2 separate regions of the Homo sapiens genome follow, and region 2 is linked to region 1. Evidence: fine-mapped expression QTL. A gene starts in region 1. The other region holds a variant in brackets. All regions are shown on one strand. Distances are from middle to middle.

What was found.
Region 2: its variant is fine-mapped to the expression of CDC37L1 in caudate (GTEx, PIP above 0.99). The same link has a PIP of 0.9 or more in aorta, fibroblasts, hypothalamus, lung, nucleus accumbens and prefrontal cortex.

The regions. Positions count from the first base shown.
Region 1 is chr9:4,675,055-4,684,934 of GRCh38, reverse strand. It overlaps CDC37L1 (cell division cycle 37 like 1, HSP90 cochaperone), which reads right to left and starts at 5,366. Exons shown (of 7, transcript NM_017913.4): 1 at 5,036-5,366; 2 at 1-58. The coding sequence starts at 5,167. It overlaps CDC37L1-DT (CDC37L1 divergent transcript), which reads left to right and starts at 5,455. Exons shown (of 2, transcript NR_121598.1): 1 at 5,455-5,548; 2 at 8,186-8,335. RefSeq lists an enhancer at 5,143-5,232.
Region 2 is chr9:4,701,898-4,713,592 of GRCh38, reverse strand. It overlaps CDC37L1 (cell division cycle 37 like 1, HSP90 cochaperone), which reads right to left. Exons shown (of 7, transcript NM_017913.4): 6 at 11,565-11,695; 7 at 5,194-7,582. The coding sequence ends at 7,481. It overlaps AK3 (adenylate kinase 3), which reads left to right. Exons shown (of 5, transcript NM_016282.4): 5 at 497-4,037. The coding sequence ends at 617. Among named protein-coding and RNA genes, the nearest start is that of CDC37L1, 28 kb to the right of the region's middle. The variant T/C (reference allele first, on the strand shown) is at 6,515.

The DNA.
Region 1 (9,880 bases):
AGCTCTTCACAAACTCTTTCTGCTTTTGGCAAGCCAATTCAATTCCATGGCTATACATCTGGATAAAAACAATATTTGTAAGAAATGAAGAAAGCAATGGATGTTTGTGCAGCACAGTTCAATTTTTCTTAATTCAAAGGATTTCTGTACAATATTTTGGTATATAGTATATCCTGTGTTCTAGGTCTGCAGTCATGTTTTTATATCTTAGTCCTTGTTTCATCAACTAACTTCTAAACTTCTTTGTTAATTTAGGCCTATCCCCTGACAACTAACAGCAACAAAAAGCCTGGCAACTATCACAGTGTCTTGCATAAAGCTAGTGCTTAACAAACGTTTAATTAATAGTCTTCATAATCCTGAACAAGCAGAATAATGAGAACAAAGCTTAAATCTAGTTCATCACCTCAATACTCAACATGCTGACAACCAGGCCTTTATAATTTTGTTCTCCAAATTCTTCACTACAAAAAAACCTCCTTTTATCTAGAAGTAATCGTTTCTTGGTTTCTATTTTCTATCTGTATTTTTCCAATCCTTGGTGATTTGAGAAGTTCTTATTGGATATTTCCATTTATAACTGATTATATCAGACAGATATCCTTTAATTTATTCCTAATCAAAATAGGCAAATTATATATATATATATTTTGTGATGGAGTCTTGCTCTGTCACCAGGCTAGAGTGCAAAGGTGCGATCTCAGTTCACTGCAACCTCTGCCTCTGGGGTTTACGTGATTTTCCTGCCTCAGCCTCCCAAGTACCTGGGACTACAGGCATGTGCCACCATGCCCAGCTAATTTTTGTATTTTTAGTAGAGACAGGGTTTCACCATGTTGGCCAAGATGGTCTTGATCTCTTGACCTCGTGATCTACACACCTTGGCCTCCCAAAGTGCTGGGATTACAGGCATGAGCCACTGCGCCTGGCCACAAAGTTACATTTCTTAAAAGTGACAATGGTCTACCCTGCTGACCGTACTACTCCGAAGCAGTAGTAATTACTTTTATTTACTTAATTACTACATGTAAAGTACTGTGATAGACATTCAATACCCTATATTCCTTGGCTCTATAAAACAAAAGCTGAAGGCACATTCTTTATGAGTTCTTCGTCAAATGTACATCAACTTCAGAATAATTTCTCTCCAATCTGTTCCCATATCTGCATCACTATTCAAGCCCTTATAATTTCACATGTGAATTATACAAATGCAGACTCTTATCCCAAGCCGTTCTCCACTCCACTAGACTGGAGTGATCTTTCCAAAAAATGAATCTGATCTTTTTTTTCATTCTTAGCTTTGGGATAAAGTACATACTCTGTGGCAAAGCCCTTCGTGATGTTATTTCCCATTACCTCTTTAGACTCAGTTCCCATTGCTCTTCTACTTGTTTGCTTATTCTTCCCTTTCCCACCCTTGTCCCTCACTTCAATTTGGCAATCCTCTTTCTTCGAGGTAACTCCTACAGAAACTCCTATCTTCATCCAGATTCTGGCATGCCCTAAACTTTTTCTGACCCAGTGTCTCCCGACCCAAGTTATGCATATTTCTGTTGTGGTGTTTGTCATACAATATCATGCTTATTTGTTTACTGACTGGTGGTGGTAAACAATTCTGAGGCAAGTAGTAACCAAGGACCCTACCTCTTAGCTGAGTCTTCAGGCAAACTCACGTTTGTACTGGGACAAATGTGGACACTTGCTATTCAGATGTTTTATTTACTCATTCAGCAGGTTTGGAGCCAAGGTACTATAAACCATGTCCCTAAGTATATTTTATAATATATATTCATATATTATAAAATATATATAAAATATATTTTATATATAAAAATAAAATATATATATAAAATATATAAAGTATATTTTAAAATATATTTTAAAATATATTTTATATATAAATATAATATATATTTAATATATATATTATATTTTAATATAAAATATTTTAATATAAAATATAATATTTTAAAATAAAATATTTATTTTTACTTTTTGTTATCTTAGAATAGGATCAAGAATAGTTATCTTAGAATAGGATCAAGAATAACTGTAGACTAGCTATGCTTAAAACAGAGCCAGGAAAAGGAGAAAAATTAAGCTATATAACTTATTTTGTAAGAAAAGATGTAAGAACTTTTGTATATAAAACTTCTTTTGGCTGGGCTCAGTGGCTCACGCCTGTAATCCCAGCACTTTGGGAGGCTGAGGCGGGCGGATTACCTGAGGTCAGGAGTTCGAAACCAGCTTGGCCAACATGGCGAAACCCCGTTTCTACTAAAAATATTTTAAAACTTAGCTGGGCATGGCCGGGAGTGGTGGCTTACACCTGTAATCCCAGCACTTCAGGAGGCCGAGGCGGGCGGATCACGAGGAGGAGCTCGAGACCATCCTGGCTAACGTGGTGAAACCTCATCTCTACTAAAAATACAAAAAATTAGCCGGGCATGGTGGCGGGTGCCTGTAGTCCCAGCTACTTGGGAGGCTAAGGCAGGAGAATGGCATGAACCCAGAATGGCAGAGGTTGCAGTGAGCCGAGATTGCACCACTGCACTCCAGCCTGGGTGACACAGCGAGACTCCATCTCAAAAAAAAAAAAAAATTAGCTGGGCACAGTGGTGGGCACCTGTAATCCCAGCTACTCAGGAGGCTGAGGCAGGAGAATCACATGAGCCTGGGAGGCGGAGGCTGTGGTGAGCCAATATCGTGCCATTGCACTCCAGCCTGGGCAACACAGCAAGACACTGCCTCAAAAAAAAAAAAAAAAAAAGAGAAAGGATAATATATCAAGAAAAGTAATATGGTAATATGGATAAATAGAAATTATCTTGCATTTTCAAATTATTTGGGAGCAAATATTCTTTTCTCAAATCGAAAAATTCTAAAAATAATGTATGTCTTATTTCTCCACAAACTACCCAGACAACATTTGGCCATTTGGGCAAACTATCCAACATGTATTCAGATATTAAATAAAATATTAGGTCACATTCTAATCCATGACCATACAGAAGTTTTAGAGGGACATTAAACATGATCTGCCTTTACATTAATTGGATCTAAGAACTACATATCACATACTACATTAAGAAGTCTAGATCCCCCTTATTTGATAAAATTAAGCCAAAGCTTTTTTTAGGATTATAAAATGTTAATCAATTAAACATTTTATTTTTTCCAAATATTCCAATCCAAAAATTTAAGTCTTAAAGCCAGTAAGACCAATAAGTAGGTTTGTAATAAACACATGAACTCAGAATTAATAATCAGTTTGCAAAAAAAATTTTTTTTTTTGAGACAAGAGTTTCGCTCTTGTTGCCCAGGCTGGAATGCAATGGTGTGATCTCGGCTCACTGTAACCTTTGCCTCCAACAATTCTCCTGCCTCAGCCTCCCGAGTAGCTGGGATCACAGGCATGCGCCACCACACCAGGCTGATTTTGTATTTTTGGTAGAGACAGGGTTTCTCCATGTTGGTCAGGCTGGTCTCGAACTCTGGTGGGCAGTGCAGTAGGTGGGAAAATATACTGGACTAGGAGTCATAAGTGGGTTCTAGTTTTAACCTGGCCACTAACTAGTTACATGGCCTCAGGGAAAACACTTTTAATGAGAGAGATAAGCTTACTCACTTCTAAAATCTCTTCCAGCTAAACAAATTTAGAAGTGCACAAGTAAGAAATTAACATACAGATATTTCTCTAGATTACTTCTGTAATTCAACCACAATGCACTGAAATTCTTGACACCCTTTTTTCTCTTCATATGCCTTCAAAATTGACAATGGCATCTGCTGTTCATTCTTCTTTCCTCCCTAGCACATCATGTGCTTATAATACATTTTGTATATAAAGATGACACTAGTGATCCAAAATTAGTGGGTGACTAATGATGGACCCATCAACTCTCATTCTGTCCTCCTAAAAAATGTCTTGTAGTTCCCCAGTGACTTAGCTGGCCAAAGTACAGACAGTGGTTATGAAACAGCATTTTTCTCTGTGTGAAGCCAACTAACCCTGTTAGCTGGACATAAGATTGATAATGTCACGCTTACTGGTAAGCAATTTAACTCATTCTCATTAACATCTAGCAAAATAAGTTGAGAGGAAAACTACTATTAAATCTGTTACACTCTTGGGAACCCCATTTTGCAAGAAGGCGGCAGACACTTATGATCCATTGAATATATTAGTGTTTAGTCTGTGATTCTGAAATATACTTCCAAAACACACACGGATTCGGAGAAAAAAACAGGACAAGGTGATGCGAGTATGTAAGTATCCCCTAAGATAGGTCCCTGAAAAATCCTTAATAGTATATCACATTTGGATACGTTTCAGTCGCAGGAAGGCAGGAATGCTGGATTGAAAACACAATACCAGGAACCTAAGAGAAGTCTGAAGGAAAACACAAGTATATGCGTATATATTTTCACTGGAGAATGACGTGAAGCAAAACTAAAAAACAAAACAGTAAGGCAAAGATGGTCACGCGAATGGGAGAGGTGTACGCCAGCGTCAAAAGCGAGATTTAAAGAATTTACTCAGTTGTCAACATCGGTGAAAATCGCATGTGAAATCTTTGTCAGGACTCAGTGTGATGCTGAACTACAATCATTCACTGTTCCTAGCAACTGTGCACAAGTATGCTAGAGCCTTTAACAGAATAAAGTGCTTGGGGAAAACCTCTCACAAGAGGACAAAGGGTCAATGTTACAGCATGAGCCGCCCCAAATCTGAGTGCTGTCAGGAAGGGGAGATGGAGGAAGGTATTCCAAGAGTGAACAGGAATCAGCCAAGGCGAAAGAAAACATGTGCGTGGAGGTGGAGGTTGGTAATATATGGCCACCCCGTCTGCCCTCCGAAGATGCCATAAAAGGGGTGGGATGGCATCAGGCGTCAGGTCCCAGGTCCCCGGCCCCTGGCAGTGAGGTGGGCGTAGAAAAAGGCGTAGAAGAGGGTCTGGGAGACGCGGCATTCCAGGGGTTTGGCGACAGCACCACTCCATCCCTCCGCAGAACGCAGGCCCCTTCTCACCTGGGCGCCGCCGCCTGGCAGCTGCGGGCAGCGGGGAGAACTGGGGAACACGTCGAAGTCACTCTCTTCCTCAGCCTCACCCTCGGCCCGAGGGAGGCTCCAGGGTCCCGGAGGCGGCCACGGTTGTTCCATGTCCGGCTGCTCCGGGTCCTACAACCGCCCTTGGCCCTACAACTGCCACTGCCAACAGACTTGGCGTGAATGGAACCTGCTGCGCCGAGCCAGAAGCCCAGCCGGGGGTCCGGGCCGTTACCCAGAATCCCTCTACTGGCCGCGACGCCGCTGCACACCCGGCGACAGCCTGGGCCTCGCCACCGGCGGACGGCGGAAGAAATAGTCGGCGCGGTGCGTCACTTCCGGTTGGGGCGGGGCTGTGGAGGCGCGTCCCGGGCCCTTTGCGTGTAGTGGGTGGATCTGCAATTGTATTCCTGTTTCAAGCCCCGTTTTCTTGCAGCTCTTCGGCACTGCAAACCTAACCGCTAATGGCGCTGTGGGTGGAGAAACGTTTGTTAGGTAGCGTTATATATTGTTATCTGGTGTTCCCTATACCGAAAACGGCGGGTCCTGGCCGCCGGGAGGTACTCAGACCAGGTGTGCACTTTACATGTTGCTTAAAAATTGCAACTCATTCCTTTACATTGACATTTAAACCAGTGATTCTAAGGCAGAGTTGGGGCGGAGGGAGGAGAATTTTGAACAAGCGGAGCCAATTTTCGTCTCATTTCTAATTACAGGCAACAACAGAATTCTGCGAAACTTGGTTGGTTGGAGGAGCACACCAAAAATAAAGTACCGGAGCCGGCACGGCTTCAAAAAAATTAGGATCAGTACCGCTAGTAGCGAACGCATAAGAAGGGCTTCCTGTATGCCTGCGTATCTTGTTTAAGCCTAAAGATATGTACTCTCTTTATCCTCTTTTTTTGAGACGAGGAAGTAGACCCAGCATGCCCGAGATCACACATTTTACAAGGAAGAAGTAGGATCCAGACCCAGGGAGTTTAACTTCAAAACTTGAACGTTTAACAATCAGGTCTTGCTGCCCTACTCATAAAGAGACCCAAATAAAAACAACATGACGCCATTTTTTTCCATGTGTTTAGACTGGCAAACTTGTGAAGTCGCTTAATACCAAATGTGTACCAAGATGTAAGGAAATGATGTGAGAATGTCATTAGTATAACCTTTTAGGAGGAGTAATTTGACAATATGAGAGGCTTGAGCGGATTGATTCAGCAATTTCACCACTAAGAAAGTATGCAACAATTATTTTTGCACCAATATCCAAAGATTTACTACAAAGATTTCTGGCAGCAATTTTTGTGTGTGTGTGGCAAGAAAAAAAAAAGCATTCTAATTGTCCATCGATAGAGGAACTTAAAGTATGGAATATTAATACAATGGCATATTACCCTTTTTAAAAAAAGTAAATTGTATCTGAATATGCTGATATATAAATACCTCCAAAAGGTATTGAGTTTTAAACAAAGCAACTTGCAGAATTAAACATATGCGTACGTATACAGAGAGAGAAGAGAGAGGGATGGTATTTGTTTGCGTCCGTGTGTGTGTGTGTGTGTGTGTGTGTGTGTGTGTGTGTTTGCGCAGAACATTCCTGGAGGATATGCAAGAAACTGTTAATGATTACCTCTGGTGGGTGAGCCTAGGAAGGAAAGCTTCTGAGGATCTTTACTTTCCACATTTAGCTTCCCTGTACTGTGCTGTTTGAATATTTTTCCAATGAATGTATACTATAATTATAGTATTATAACAGTACAAGATTATAACAGTACAAGATTACTATAAAATTAATTACAAATAAAAGCTGAGAATCACTTTTGCACCTAAACCTTTTGAATTTAGGGGTGAAAGTCACAGGAGAGACTGGAAAGGGAGGAAGAAAAGAAAAACATTTTTCTCTTTGCTTCCATGAAGCCACAAAGTGCTTTGAATAGTGCCTGGCATAAAGTAAGCCCTATATAAACGCTAATGCTGTTAGTTTTTCTCCTACCTCTTTCACTACTTCTCCTCAGTCTTCTTCCCTTCTAGCTGACCTCTAACTTTAGAGTTCCTCATATTTTGGCCAGTGAGGAGAATCCTGTTTATTCCTGTGGCTTTAAATAACATCTGTGTATCTATAATTCTCAAATTGAAATCCAAGTCCTGACCTTACCCCTGTGCTCCAGACTCATGTCTACCCGCTGATTTGTCATCTCATTTTAATGGTTCATACACATCTTAAATTTAACACATCCAAACCCTTGATCTCACCGCCTTCCCCAAACTTCTTTGGGTCTTCTCCGTGTCAATCAATGGCATCACCATCCAGTCCAAAACCTAGAGTTCAGCCTTAGTTCCTCCCTCTCCTTTACCTCTCATACCAACAGCAAGTCCTACTGTTTTTACCCCCAAATACATCTTGAATCTATGTTCTTTCCTGCTTTACTGCATACTCCCTAGGCCAGAACACTATGATTGCTTCTCAGAACTACTGCAGTAGTCTTCCATGCTTCTGTTCCATTCTTGCTCCTTACAATCTCTTCATACTGTTGCCAGAGAGATTTTTAAAAAATACATAAATCATATCATGTCTCACCCCTGCTATATCAATTATATGCTTTCAATGCAAATAACTGAAACCTCAGCTAAAAGAAACCTAAACTATAAGGACATTTATTGTGTATGTAACAAAAAGAATGATCCCAGGATAGGCTTAGCAGTTTGAAGATGTCATTAAATATTCAGGTTCAGGCCAGGCGTGGTAGCCTACACCTGTAATCCCAGCACTTTGTGAGGCCAAGGCGGGTGGATCACTTGAGGCCAGGAGTTCGAGACTAGCCTGGCCAACATGGCAAAACCCCGTCTCTACTGAAAATACAAAAATTAGGCAGACCTGGTGGTGCATGCCTGTAATCCCAGCTACCCGGGAGGTGGAGGTTGCAGTGAGCTGAGATCACAGCATTGTACTCCACCTGGGTGACAGAGCGAGACTGTGTCGCAAAAGAAAGAAAGGAAAGGAAGGGAAAGGAAAAGGAGGGGAGGGGAGGGGAGGGGAAGGGAAGGGAAGGAAAGGAAAAGGAAAGGAAGATTCAGGTTCTTTCAATCCCTATCCCTCCTCCCCAGCATCCTAAATCTGTTTACTTTCATCTTCAGGCTTCTTACATCATGGTTGCAGGATGGCTGCTACAGCTCTGGACATCACATCAAAATATGGCAGAAGCTAAAGCAGGAAGACAGAGAAGGAGGCAAAACAGCTTTATTCACTTGTGGCTCTCATATGAAGAATAAAGATATTTCTCGAAACCTTCTAGTGAAATCCTTATATCTTATTGGCCAGAACTGGCTTACATAAATTATGATTTGTTGTCTGGAGCTGGATGCATTGCTACCTAAACAAAACTGGAGTTCTGTTAGCAAGGAGGAAGAGTTTGTGGCAGTAAGGTAGGCAATCACATTCTCTGCCATAATTGATAAAGTTCCTGTGAAACCTAGTGGCACCCTAATTCCTGAGTGTCATTCCTTTCTTTTTTTTTTTTGAGATGGAGTCTCGCTCTGTCTCCCAGGCTGGAGTGCATGGACTGCAGTGGCGCCATCTCAGCTCACGGCAACCTCCACCTCCTGGGTTCAAGCGATTCTCCTACCTCAGCCTCCCGAGTAGCTGGGATTACAGATGTGCACCACCACACCCAGCTGATTTTTGTATTTTTAGTAGAGACGGGGTTTTACTATGTTGGCCAGGCTGGTCTCGAACTCCTGACCTCAGGTGATCCGTCCGCCTCGGCCTCCCAAAGTGCTGAGACTACCGGTGTGCACCACTGCACCCGGCCCTGAATGTCGTTTCTTAAACCCTCTCCCTAACACCTTCCTTGCCCTCTCCCACCCCAAAATCTCTCTTGGACTCCTTTCAGTTCCTCAAACATGGCAGTTCCTTTCCTAACTCATGGCCCTTTCGAGTTGCTATTCCCTTTGCCTTTTCTCTTACTTTGAAAGGCTTGCTAGTGGTCATGCTTTTCTTCTTAGATCTTAGACCAAATCTCATACTCTTAGGCCAATCTGGCCAGTGAGTCTAAATGAAGTTCTCGTTTCTTCTTCAACCTGTTCTATTTTACCACCTTGTATATTTCCTTTCTACTATTCATCATACTATTATTTTATGTTCACTTAGTTATTATGTTTCTTACCCCAATAGAATGTAAGCTCCATGAGAGCACAGATTGTTTCTTATTCACTCTTGTACTTACATGGCTCAGAACAATACCTGGCTTACAGTAGACACTCAATAAATGTGGGCTGAATAAATGGATAGAGAATGAATGAATGGAAACAAGGATAAAAGAAAAGGTTAAATAAAGGCAGAAGGTGGTGAAAAAGGAATAGAAAGAAGTATATTTTGGTAGGAGATAAGGAGTGGATATAATGATATCAGAAGTAGCCTCATCTTGAGCCATTGCTGACTTCAGGATCTGAATCCTGTGCCCTGGCATAGTAAACACTTATTTTTGGAAACAGTTCTTGCTATGTTACCTAGGTCGGTCTCAAACTCCTGGGCTCAAGAGATCCTCCTGCTTCGGCCTCTCAAGTGGCTGGGATTACAGGCATGTACCACCACGCCCAGCTCCAGTAGACACTTTTTAAACAAGTCTTGGAACTTAATCATACACTTCTACTTTCTTATTTTGGATAATAAATAAAATTCCTTGGAAATTGCTTTGGGTCATAATTTGCCTATTACTCCCATGGACATAGAGCTAGCCAGCTGAAACTCAAAGGAGCAAATTAGGTTTTTTTCTGAGTAGAAATTACTTTTAAATGGAAAGACTATGTAGTCCAAAAAGCCCAAGGGCAGCC
Region 2 (11,695 bases), 28 kb before region 1:
GAAAGATACTCAAGTATTAGAAAGTAGCTTTTGCAAAAGAGTAAGTAGAAAAAAAAGGCTGATGGGTGTTCTGGTATCTTATAGGTCCTGTTTGGAAATGTACTACCAACTTGGTGATTTGGGCTAAGTTACATTACAAAGGGATGATTTTATTAGTAAAATAAGAAAATTTGAGCTTTGGAAAGGATTAAACAAACTATAATATGTAAAGCATGTAGCACAGCCTTTGACACACAGTGCATGTTCAATAAATAAAATAAATGATAGGTGCTGTTATTTTTTTAAGCACCCATTTTTGTAAGCCAGAGAGCACAACTGAAACCAAAATGTACATTTTCCAATGCCCAGCCAAGTGCCTTTCTCTCCTGATTACACAAATCTATACTTACCAAGACTCCTATATCTACAATATCATTATTTACAGAAAGGCTTTGAAAGAGCTTATTAGGAAGACTCAGACCTGTGTGTGTTTGTTTTGTTTTTGTTTCATCTTTAGGAAAAAAGGGGTGCTGGAAACATTCTCCGGAACAGAAACCAACAAGATTTGGCCCTATGTATATGCTTTCCTACAAACTAAAGTTCCACAAAGAAGCCAGAAAGCTTCAGTTACTCCATGAGGAGAAATGTGTGTAACTATTAATAGTAAGATGGGCAAACCTCCTAGTCCTTGCATTTAGAAGCTGCTTTTCCTAAGACTTCTAGTATGTATGAATTCTTTGAAAATTATATTACTTTTATTTCTACTGATTTTATTTTGGATACTAAGGATGTGCCAAATGATTCGGATACTAAGATGCATCGTTTGAAATCATCTAGTGTGTTGTATGCAGTTATCCTCAAAAACATCAGCGATGTCTGAACCTTTAAAACATCTGTTAGAGCAAAATTAAAAGAGCATTTGGTAGTAATCTAACTTTTTGTTCAGTTAATAAGTGGTTGATAAAGTTTCCATATTTTTCTGGAAAAGTTAAAAAAAGTTACATGTCATTTGGAGAAAATACGTAATCAGAAATTTGTGCATAGATTGATGCCAAAAAAGACATTTCCAGCATTGTGGAACATGGTGAGACACTATATAAAATTCCAGAAAGAAAGCAACTGGATTTACAGATTTATTGTGAGACACAAATTCACTGCTGCCTTTACACTAAGAAATGTATATGTTAACCATATATGCTGTATTTATTTTGTCGTTAAGCATACTTTCAGTTTACTCAGAATTTTCAATTTGCTATAAAGATGTATCAATTAGCATATAGAAAAATATTACTTTAAGATGACTTGTTTCCTTTGAAAATACCTGTGTACTGAGGGTTATGATTTGTGTCAAAAATTGACATAAGTGCTTTTACAAGCACCAAAGTTGAATGAATTTTCAACAAAATGTAATTAAAGTCTATGTTTTCAGTTATGACTCAGGTTAAGAAATGTGTTTTAGGATCTACTTGCTGGTTTTTCTTTTTGATCCAAATGTGTGATCTGCCCTGATAAATAACAAGTTATAGTACCATCTCCCCCGCCAATAAAAAAGAGAAGAAAAAAGAGAAACCCGTGGCACTATGTAAATAAAGTAAGCATACTTTGTTGTTAGTAAATAGATGAGGCATGCCTGGGAAATGCTCCCTTGGCATAAATAGCAATCAATCATAATTAGTAAACAGGTGTACCAATAAAAAGAATTTACATGATAGGTTAACAAGGACCAGGAAAGTGAGTTTCCTGAAGGAGTTCTTTGTTCCTGATCAAAGAAATTGATACCTGTTAGCATTCACTGCCACCATATTTTAAGGAGAAAGAACTCTATTGGTGTCGTCTGAGCAGCCATTTAAAAATTGGAATCTAAAGGATGGTTGCTGATGTACTGTGTGGTCTGGTAGAAGTGGGGAAATATGAGAGATGGAGGAAAAACTTGATTATGTCTTCCATGGCATATTTACTCTTACTTTACTTCGTGCCAAATCAAATGAAACAAGCCGTCTTACAAGTCGTTATTGCCTTTAAAAATCTGTTCCGTTTTTTTCCCAGGTACTTAAAATACAAGTGCCAGTAAGTGGTTCTTATGTGTTTTGGGGGGAAAATTTTATTTCCCTTTTCTTCTGATATTTAAAAAATTCATCGATCTTTCAAGATGAACCAAGGTTTTTTAAAAGAAATATAGGAAACACTTCATTCTTTATAAAACTTTCTATAATGCCTTATTTGAATGTTAATCTTATGTGCTTTCTAAAAAATGTTGTGAAATACCAAACTTATGGATTATCACTAGGTTATCAAGCATATATTAGTCTTTATCAGAATAAAATGAAATTTCATAACTGTGGCTATTACTTTGTTCTTGGTCCTTCACAGGGCCTGCTCCATCCCACCTTCCTTTCTGCTGCCTGATGTCTCAATGGCTTCTGAATGACTGTTCTAATAAATGATCTTAAAACAGTCCATAGGCTGGTTTCAGTTTATGCAATACTTCATCTCCTGCTATGGTAGCCATACCGGCCTTCATAATACCCTTAGGGGATTTGGAAATCAAAGTGAGCAGTGGAAGAACATGGCTATGAGAATTAAGACTCTTATTTCCTGTGACCATTCCCTCCCCACCCGCAAACACTTAGCCCAAAGTTTTGCACATACATTCATTACTTTAGGAATGAATATGACTGTAATACAACTTTTTTCTTTATTTTTTTTTAGACAGGGCCTCACTCTGTTGCCCAGACTAGAGTGCAGTGGCATAATTGGGTCACTGTAACGTTGAACTCCTGGGCTCACGCAATTCTTCTACCTCAGCCTCCCAAGTAGCTGAAACTACAGGTATGTACCACCATGCCTGGCTAATTTTATTTTTTTGTAGAGACGGCGTCTCGATATGTTGCCCAGGCTAGTCTCCTGGCCTCAAACAGTCTTCCTGATTCAGCTTCCCAAGTGCTGAGATTACAGGTGTAAGCCACTGCCCCCACCCAAAAAAATAATTCTGTAATGACCATCATTAAGATTTATGTACCACATGGAAATACATGTATGGAGCTGAATGCCATGGCTAGGAGAAACTACTATACTTTTGTTAAAAGCCAATGAGAGGCCGGGCGCGGTGGCTCACGCCTGTAATCCCAGCACTTTGGGAGGCCGAGGCGGGCGGATCACGAGGTCAGGAGATCGAGACCATCCTGGCTAACACGGTGAAACCCCGTCTCTACTAAAAATACAAAAAAAAAAAAAAAAAATTAGCCGGGCATGGTGGCGGGCGCCTGTAGTCCCAGCTACTCGGGAGGTTGAGGCAGGAGAATGGTGTGAATCCGGGAGGCGGAGGTTGCAGTGAGCTGAGATCGTGCCACTGCACTCCAGCCTGGGCGACAGAGGGAGACTCCGTCTCAAAAAAAAAAGCCAGGGAGAACAGCACCTCAACTGATTTATTTTATAGAGTAAAAGTTATTTTGCTATACCTTTTGTAAGCAGCGTGTACTGTGGGAAATGCAAACTAGCAGTTGTTAGCACCATCCAGAAATTTCTGTCAGTTCCATTTCAAATAGTTTAAATACTGGCTCAAATCTCTAAACCCCACCCTATGGCTACTTTTCCCCCAGCTATATATAATGGCATTCTAGCAAGATATTTTGGATCCTCATAACTTGTGACAAAACTGCCCTATACTAACAACAAATCATTGTAATTATAGATCTCAAATTATGTTAAATTGCTATAGTTGCAACCAACAGCAAGAATTTGTATTTTAGAATATGTTGTGTCTTCTCATTGACCAAAAAATAAAAATAAAAATAAAAATAAATCCTCAGGCCCTGATAAACTGTAGAAATAGCTTTTCTATCTTTGCAGTTAAAGATTTTCATCTTGGAAGTTATGGTTAAAAAATTTTTAAACAGTTAAAATAGTGTAGCTGTGCTTAAAGCTTCTGGTAAAAGCCAGTATGCTTTGTAGAGCCCTTATCCCCCTCCTGCTTTTTATTTGTTTTTAGCTCACTAAATAATATAAACACTGATTTTTCCATATATAGCACTGAATAAACTGTCATGCCTAAGTGTAAATCAGTCCAGCACTGTGTCATCTTTTTCTAAAGCATTCCAAGTTAAATGTCTGATGTGTAAATAACATGAAGAATCATGCTGTTAACTGTGTGAAAGATGTGGGAATTTTAATAATCATTTTCTATATTTAGAGATCAAACAAGTCTAATTCTTCAAAGCTTATGAGAATGGTTTCACTTCATATTAGATGGTGAACAATCCATAATGAACTTATATTCACCCTGTGTCCCCCTCCCGACCCCCTTGGCTCACATAGTGAGCAAATAATTTTCAGATAAATCAACTTCTCAGAACTATGCAATTGTATATACATGTCCATTACAGATGAGAGATGGATGGATTTAAGGGTTTTGTTAAAAGTATGTTTGCTATAATGGCAAAATTGAAATGGAAAGCCCATGAAATGGAAAGCCCAACCTCAACCCAGACAAGTACCTCGGTTCTGTCCCACACCAATTTAAGAACTGAAATACATGATTGACTTAGAAAAGTAAACTGACATTTCGTTCTCCTCTGAAAATACCCAAAGGTTAACTTCAGGATCACCTTGCCTAAACCTACAGTCAACTTTTTTCATCCTGTTAGAAAATCCACTTACTAAAACAGATTCATGTTCTTTGGGCAGCATGTTCATTTTCATTTTTAGATGTTGCCAGGCTGGAGTGCAGTGGCGCCATCTTGGCTCACTGCAACCTCTGCCTCCCGGGGTTCAAGCGATTCTCCTGCCTCAGCCTCCTGAGTAACTGGGACTACAGCCACGCGCCACCATGCCCAGCTAATTTTTGTATTTTGGGTAGAGACAGGGTTTCACCATGTTGGCCAGGATGGTCTCGATCTCCTGACCTCAGGATCCACCCGCCTCGGCCTCCCAAAGTGCCGGGATTACAGGCGTAAGCTACTGCGCCCGGCTGTTCATTCATTTTTAAAAGGGTAATAATATGATATGCCAGTCTGAAAGAAGAGGAGGACCTGATTTTCCTAAAGAGAAGTTATAAGAGATTGTGAGCTCATTAGGCAAAATTTGAAAGAGCTCACTAATGGTATAATTGGAAGAGAATGTTACCCATCTACCTAAGAGTAATAATTTTAAGGCAGTATTATCTTCACTACCACTGAAAAAATGACACTGAGTTAACAGAGAATAAATGGACAGCTATTTGATTTAAAAATTTTTTTATTCAAATATTAATTTTATCAAATGAAACAAGAATCTTTGATGATACTTTGATGTAAAAAAATGTTTCATTCATGTGTTTGCACTTTCCATGGTTTAATTTGTTTAGGGTAAATTGTCCAACCTGAAATATAAATTATCCCTTTGCTTAATATACTCTTTATTTCTTCAGAAACAAAAAAAAGGTAGGAATTAGTTCAAGGATGTCAATTTACTGTTTCTAGTACTAAAGTACGGCTAACTATGTAATTTATAGCCTTTAAGTGCAAATTATGGCATCAGTCAGTGGTTCCCACAACAGACCCAATCACACTTTCATACTCAAAACACAGTATATTCTTTTGCAAGTAAAAATATATAAATCAAGTTTCAAAGAACATCTTTTCAGTGCCCCTCAAGAATAGTTTACTCAGTTTGTTGATACTTTCTCTCCTGCCAGTCTTCAGTCATTAAATACCTCTAACTTAGAGAAGGCAAAATGAAATTCAAAACAATTTGAATGCTTACAGGCAAATCCTGGGAAAGAAGGGAAAATAATAATTCAAGTAACATTTCTGTGAAACTAGGAATATGGCTCCTGTGTCTGCCCATTCTCTCAATTTGGTAGAAAGGGAAAAATAAGAGCTTGCTTCAGAACAGAACAAAAAGAAAAAAATGTCTACGACTAGGTCATGGGTTTAAAAAAAAAAAAAGTACAGGCTGACAAACACTACTATATAAATTAGTCAAACATTTTATTATAGAGTATATATTTATATCAAAAGCACAAAAACGTTTATTCTGAAAACCAGGAAGATTGTGATGTTACAGAAGAAGATTCAATAATTCCAGTCCATTTCTAGGGTACTAAGTGTCTGATCACCTCAGCGAAAACAAGATACAAATGAGGCCAAGGTCACAGGTCTGGCCACCCTGAGTCCCTTCGCACTATTTGGTTTCTCAAGTTGAGACACGTATTCCCAGTCCCAGTTAGCCACCTTCCAAGTGTTTGCTACTAGCCTTAATGGGTACTTAGCCAAAGACTACACCCAAATATAACCAAAGCTTATGTTAAGTCATAAGATTAATCCTTCAATAATAAGGATAGCATAATTGGCTTTGTTACCTAATTCTACATAAACAAAATCATCAAATATCCTGGCATAACTGAAATGACTTACAGAGGAAGTAGTAAAGCTTGGAAGTATTCTATGGTAACTGAGCTGAAAAAGGGGAAATGCCAAATGTTGTAAATGCCATCATTACCAATAAGAGTCACCAAATTCTCAGAAATAGGTAATTGGCAGCTCAAGGCAGTTAGCAC[T/C]ACAAGATTTCTCTTGCCTTTAAAAAAAAAATCATTTTTAAGACTCCTTTTTTAAAAGGCTACATCAAAAAATAAACCAAAATAACAAAAATTAAAAGGCAACATGAGTAAAATAACTACAAATTTAAAAATCAGATTATTATTCCTGTTTGTTCTTACAAGCCATTAGTATTCTTTTAAAACTTACTCCCTGAGAGATCCCAGACTATGTTAAGAAAGAGTGAGCTTGAAGTTATTCTTATTTAAAAAGAAAATCTATATTAGCTCATCACATTTGATATTATTATAACTCTTAAAGTCAGCAGGGTAAAATCAAATTCTAAGGAATATAGTTTTGAGAATAATTTGAGGGTAAATGTAATGTATATATCAAATTTGTATTATAGTCAAGGATTTAACTGATGGTGCCGAAAGTCAAGTATTTAAGAGTTAAGACTTTTAAAAATTGTACCCCCCAACTTATTTAGTAAAGTACATTACCAACTACTGATTTATTGCTTTTAATGTGATGAAACACCAAATTTGACAGCTAAAGTAGCAGTGGGATACAAGTATGTTTTTATCTTTAATCATTTTTGTAGAATAGGACATGTACATATCCATATAAAAAGAGACTGTAGCAGATGCCTCCCAGAATCAACCAGTTCTTGTAAACATTGCATTTGTGCAGATTTTCATACTTGATTCCAAAATTGAGAACAATAAGATTAAAAGCAAATTTAGTAGCCACAAAAAGTCCAGTTTGACTTCCTGCAACATATGGTACCACTCTTCTCTTCAGAACAAAACAAAACAAAAAACCTAGCAGCACATTAAAAAAAATTTACAAAACATTTCAGTACTCTTTCCCTCCCATCAAAAACCGAACAAAAATAAAGTGCAGCACCCATAAAAGTGTCAAGAAAATAGCCAAGTTCTTCCTTTCTTGTAACAAAATAGCACTTGGCCTCAGCAGTCTTAACCAAATTATACAGTGTCCATCATTTTGGGTTCATCATCTTCTTTATGTACCACCGAGTTTAAGCTGCAGAGAGCTGTACTGATAGAATACTGAAGATAATCTGGATTCTGGGGAAAAAGAAAAGGTAGATTGGGGGGAGAAAAAGAACGCATTATAACCAGTTTTATGACAGTACATACATATATATTCAGTTTCACCGTCCTATTTCTCTGCAGTGTAGTAGAGCAGTAGGAAAGAAGATGGACTTTGGAGACAGACTTGGGCTGAATCCCAAGAAAATAAAGAAAAAAATAGGATGCTATCACCTATGAGATGTGATAAAAGAATGATACATGTAAAAAACAGAAATGTTAACAAATACCACCTTTCTTCTCTGTTTAATCATACAAGGCAAGGCTACAACCTCCATGTGATTATATATACATAGCTACTGATAATTTAAATATGGTTTGAAGTTAGCAATGCATTTTTAAGATTACCATCTAATTACAACAGTAAATACTAAAACTGCAAATCATCTAAATAAAGAAAAAATTTACTGGGTAAAAATTATGGATATCTTCAGGGTCTATTGTGGTTTCCCAAAGGTTAAAACAAACTCAGTGAGAAATCTGTACACTTTTGAGATGTATTTACACCCTTATTTTTTAAACTGAGAATAAAACAACAGGATTTGTTAAACAAGCATAAACTCATAAATGTTATGCTTGTCAATTTCAAAAACTGGGAATAGAAAACATAAAATCTTACTCAATAAATGCAAAAATAAAACCATTATTAAAGCACCATGAATAAGGGTATAGCCCTTAAGACCCAGAACTTTAGAAAATTCTTCCCCAATTCAATTTTGTCTACTCAATTGTTCCGAATATCTGCTAGTTACTTAAGACTTTTACCACTTGTATTACTAGTTTTACTTATATTTATTTTATTTAATAAACACCAGTGAGGACAGTAGTCAAACAGGATAGATGTCTTAAACCTCACCATCCAATAGGAGGTTGGGAGGCAGGGTTTTCTAAAGATCCTCCTAAGAAAGTACAACACTTTGTGAGATTCCTTTATTCTAAAAGTCAAAAAGCTAGCTGGAGTTCGGATTATTCCCAATCAGGTCTTTATGAAGGAAGTAGCAGGGACAACTGACTGAGGTCTGGGACACTCACACTGGGCTTCAGTTTTAATCCTGCCTCTATTTAGTAAAGCAAGCCTCAAGGAGAACAAAATTCACAATTTAGTAAAATTAAAAACTAGTCTACAGGATAAACCTAAAGTTAACTGTTATTATTTCTATATCCAAGAGGCCTTGGATTAGACCTCTCAAAACTAAGGATAATGAATGGTATTTGGCTTATTTCACACGATTGCTGTCAATTATTAAAAAAAAGAAATGAAAAGCTAAATGGTTACCCACACTTAAGCTTTATCAAAAATGACCAATATTATTGTTACATTGTCTCATTCTCCAAAAAAACAGCTTTAAGACCTTTTTCTAACAATCCAAGCCTAATTCTCTGGAACAGAGCTTACAATTACTCTATTAAGACTGGGCTCCAGTTTTCCATGGCACAACTTTTAATAACAGAATTGGCTGAGGAGATTCTCCAAAACTCATCCACCCATCTTCCTAAGAACTGTAAGATACTATCATACAGAGACTTTAAAAAATAAGAAGGAATCGGTATACCCGACCTAACCTACACTTAGATTTCATTGACTGTCCCATATTTTCATCTAGTAACATTCTCAACACATATGATTCACAGTCTGTGGTATAGGTGAATAAGCAGTGAAGCATAATAGAAATCCAAAAGTAGAATATTAGATTCATCACTTATTGTGTTGACCTCAGGCAAATTTCTTAAGTTCTATGAATTTCAGTTTACTCATCTATAAAAATGAATGAAAATGAATCACAGGGTGTTTGAGAAAATTAAATAATATGTGTGAAAGTGCTTTACAACATATAAACTGATATAAAAATGGGATGTTATTATTATGGTAAGATTTTTCTTCCAAACCTCTAAACTGATGATTTGGTCTTTCAGGTGGCCTCTCATTTTACTTCCCTCAACTAGTCGATAATCCTTTCCGCACATGTAGCAAGCATCTAACTGAAATTTTCTCCAGCCCTTGTATCCTTCAGAAGGACCACATCAGGATGCTCAAATTACTTACCATAAGGAATTGGTCTCCCACCATGAGGAGATTAGCCCAGCTTAATTAAATCTGAATAACCCTGATAATATCAGCAATACAGAAGTGTCAGAATTGTATAATTCTAGTCCCCCCATGACTATAAGGGATGCCTAGCACCTGATATCAGTTGCTATCTAATATATAGTTGCTATCTAATAACAACAAGGACTTACTTCTCTCAAACCAGAGGCAACTTCTTGATAATATAGGCTTAAGATACTATAATGTGTATCTTTCCCTCTTATATTTAGAATCAGTTACATCCTTCCAAAGTCTCTTTTCTCCTTCCCATGCATTATGTGACATTTTAATTGCAGGAGGTTTATATATTGGATTTCACAGTGACTTGGTCACAGAATTCCCCTGGAAAAACTACTTCCCTATGGGCTATTTCTTAGGAACTGAAGAGAAAAATCATCACTGAATTTAAATAAAATTAAGAGATAATCTGTAGGAATTTGTAGAGGGAATATTCTTTACATGTCTAACTAAGGGGGAACATTACTAATTATTTAAAAATCAAACATTAATTATTTCCATCCTTGAGACTTTTTTTTTTTTTTTTCAGCCAGAGTAGGCTCAGAGACTCCTGATAATAATATTTTTGACTGGGGTAAATATGATCAATCACTTTCCTTAAAGGACATACATGTAATTGGAATGGTGAAATTACAGTGAGATAAGGTCAAGCCACTGAAAATCCCAATTTTTAGCACTTTATGAGGTTTAAAACTAAATATAGGACTCTCCTCACATTGTCTTTTGAATAAGACTTTCCTTCTCACAATGTAGACAACAGATTAAACTGGCTAAAGCTGGTCTTAAAATCTTGGAGCCTGGAAATGAGAGATGACTGGGCTCTATTAAAGTGCTACTAGTAAAATCAAATGGGTAGGAATTATCTAATAATAACTTAAACTTGTAATCCTAACTAGCATCAGGCAGACCAGTGGTCTGATCATGTCTCCTTTTTGATGTAAATTTTTTCATGCTGCCTATATGACATGATTTTTTTTTTTTTTTTTTTTTTTTTGAGACGGAGTCTTGCTCTGTCGCCCAGGCTGGAGTGCAGTGGCTCGATCTCGGCTCACTGCAAGCTCTGCCTCCCGGGTTCACGCCATTCTCCTGCCTCAGCCTCCCGAGTAGCTGGGACTGCAGGTGCCTGCCACCACGCCCGGCTAATTTTTTTGTATTTTTTTTTTTTAGAAGAGACGGGGTTTCACCTTGTTAGCCAGGATGGTCTCGATCTCCTGACCTCGTGATCTGCCTGTCTCGGCCTTCCAAAGTGCTGGGATTACAGGCGCGAGCCACTGCGCCCAGCCGACATGGTTTTATCTTGATCAAACCACTGAAGACTTCAAAGAGGCTCAAACAGTTGGCCAGTATTACCAGATACAATATTATCAGCTACATTAATGTGTTCTAAAAATGTTATATCTGGTAGACCCAACATTTAACAAGAAAATACTAAATAAACTTAAGCAACAGATCACACTGGTTCCATGTGCATGTCCACTTTGAAGCTAATCATCCTAAAAAATTCAAAATGGCATAGTTTTAACTCAGGATGAGATGTTTTAAGGAAGCTCCTGAGGGAGCCATCTTGAAGAGTTTATGATTGAGATGATCAATAGCTAAGATTTGTTCTTAAGAATGGTTAGGTATAACTAATCACTACTACATTAAAAGGAGAGGAAATCTGGTATCTCTAAATACTTAAGAGGTGAGATTCAGCACCAAAACATGGCATGAAGTAAGATTCAACAGTTATCTTCTGAGGCAGGAATATTTAAAATAGTAGCACATATTAAAAAAAAAAAAGAGTGGGGCAAAATAACAAAAATTATGTGAATTAATAGGCTTATAAAACAAATATTTACTTTTCCAACTTACCTGTGGTAAGGATTCTAATAAACCTATAGATCCAACACCAGAATGGGGAACATGATTCTGAACTGTCATAGGTTGAAAACTTTGTGATTGAGAATAAAGTCTTACTCTTGACTTGAAAGCTTCAAGTTCAT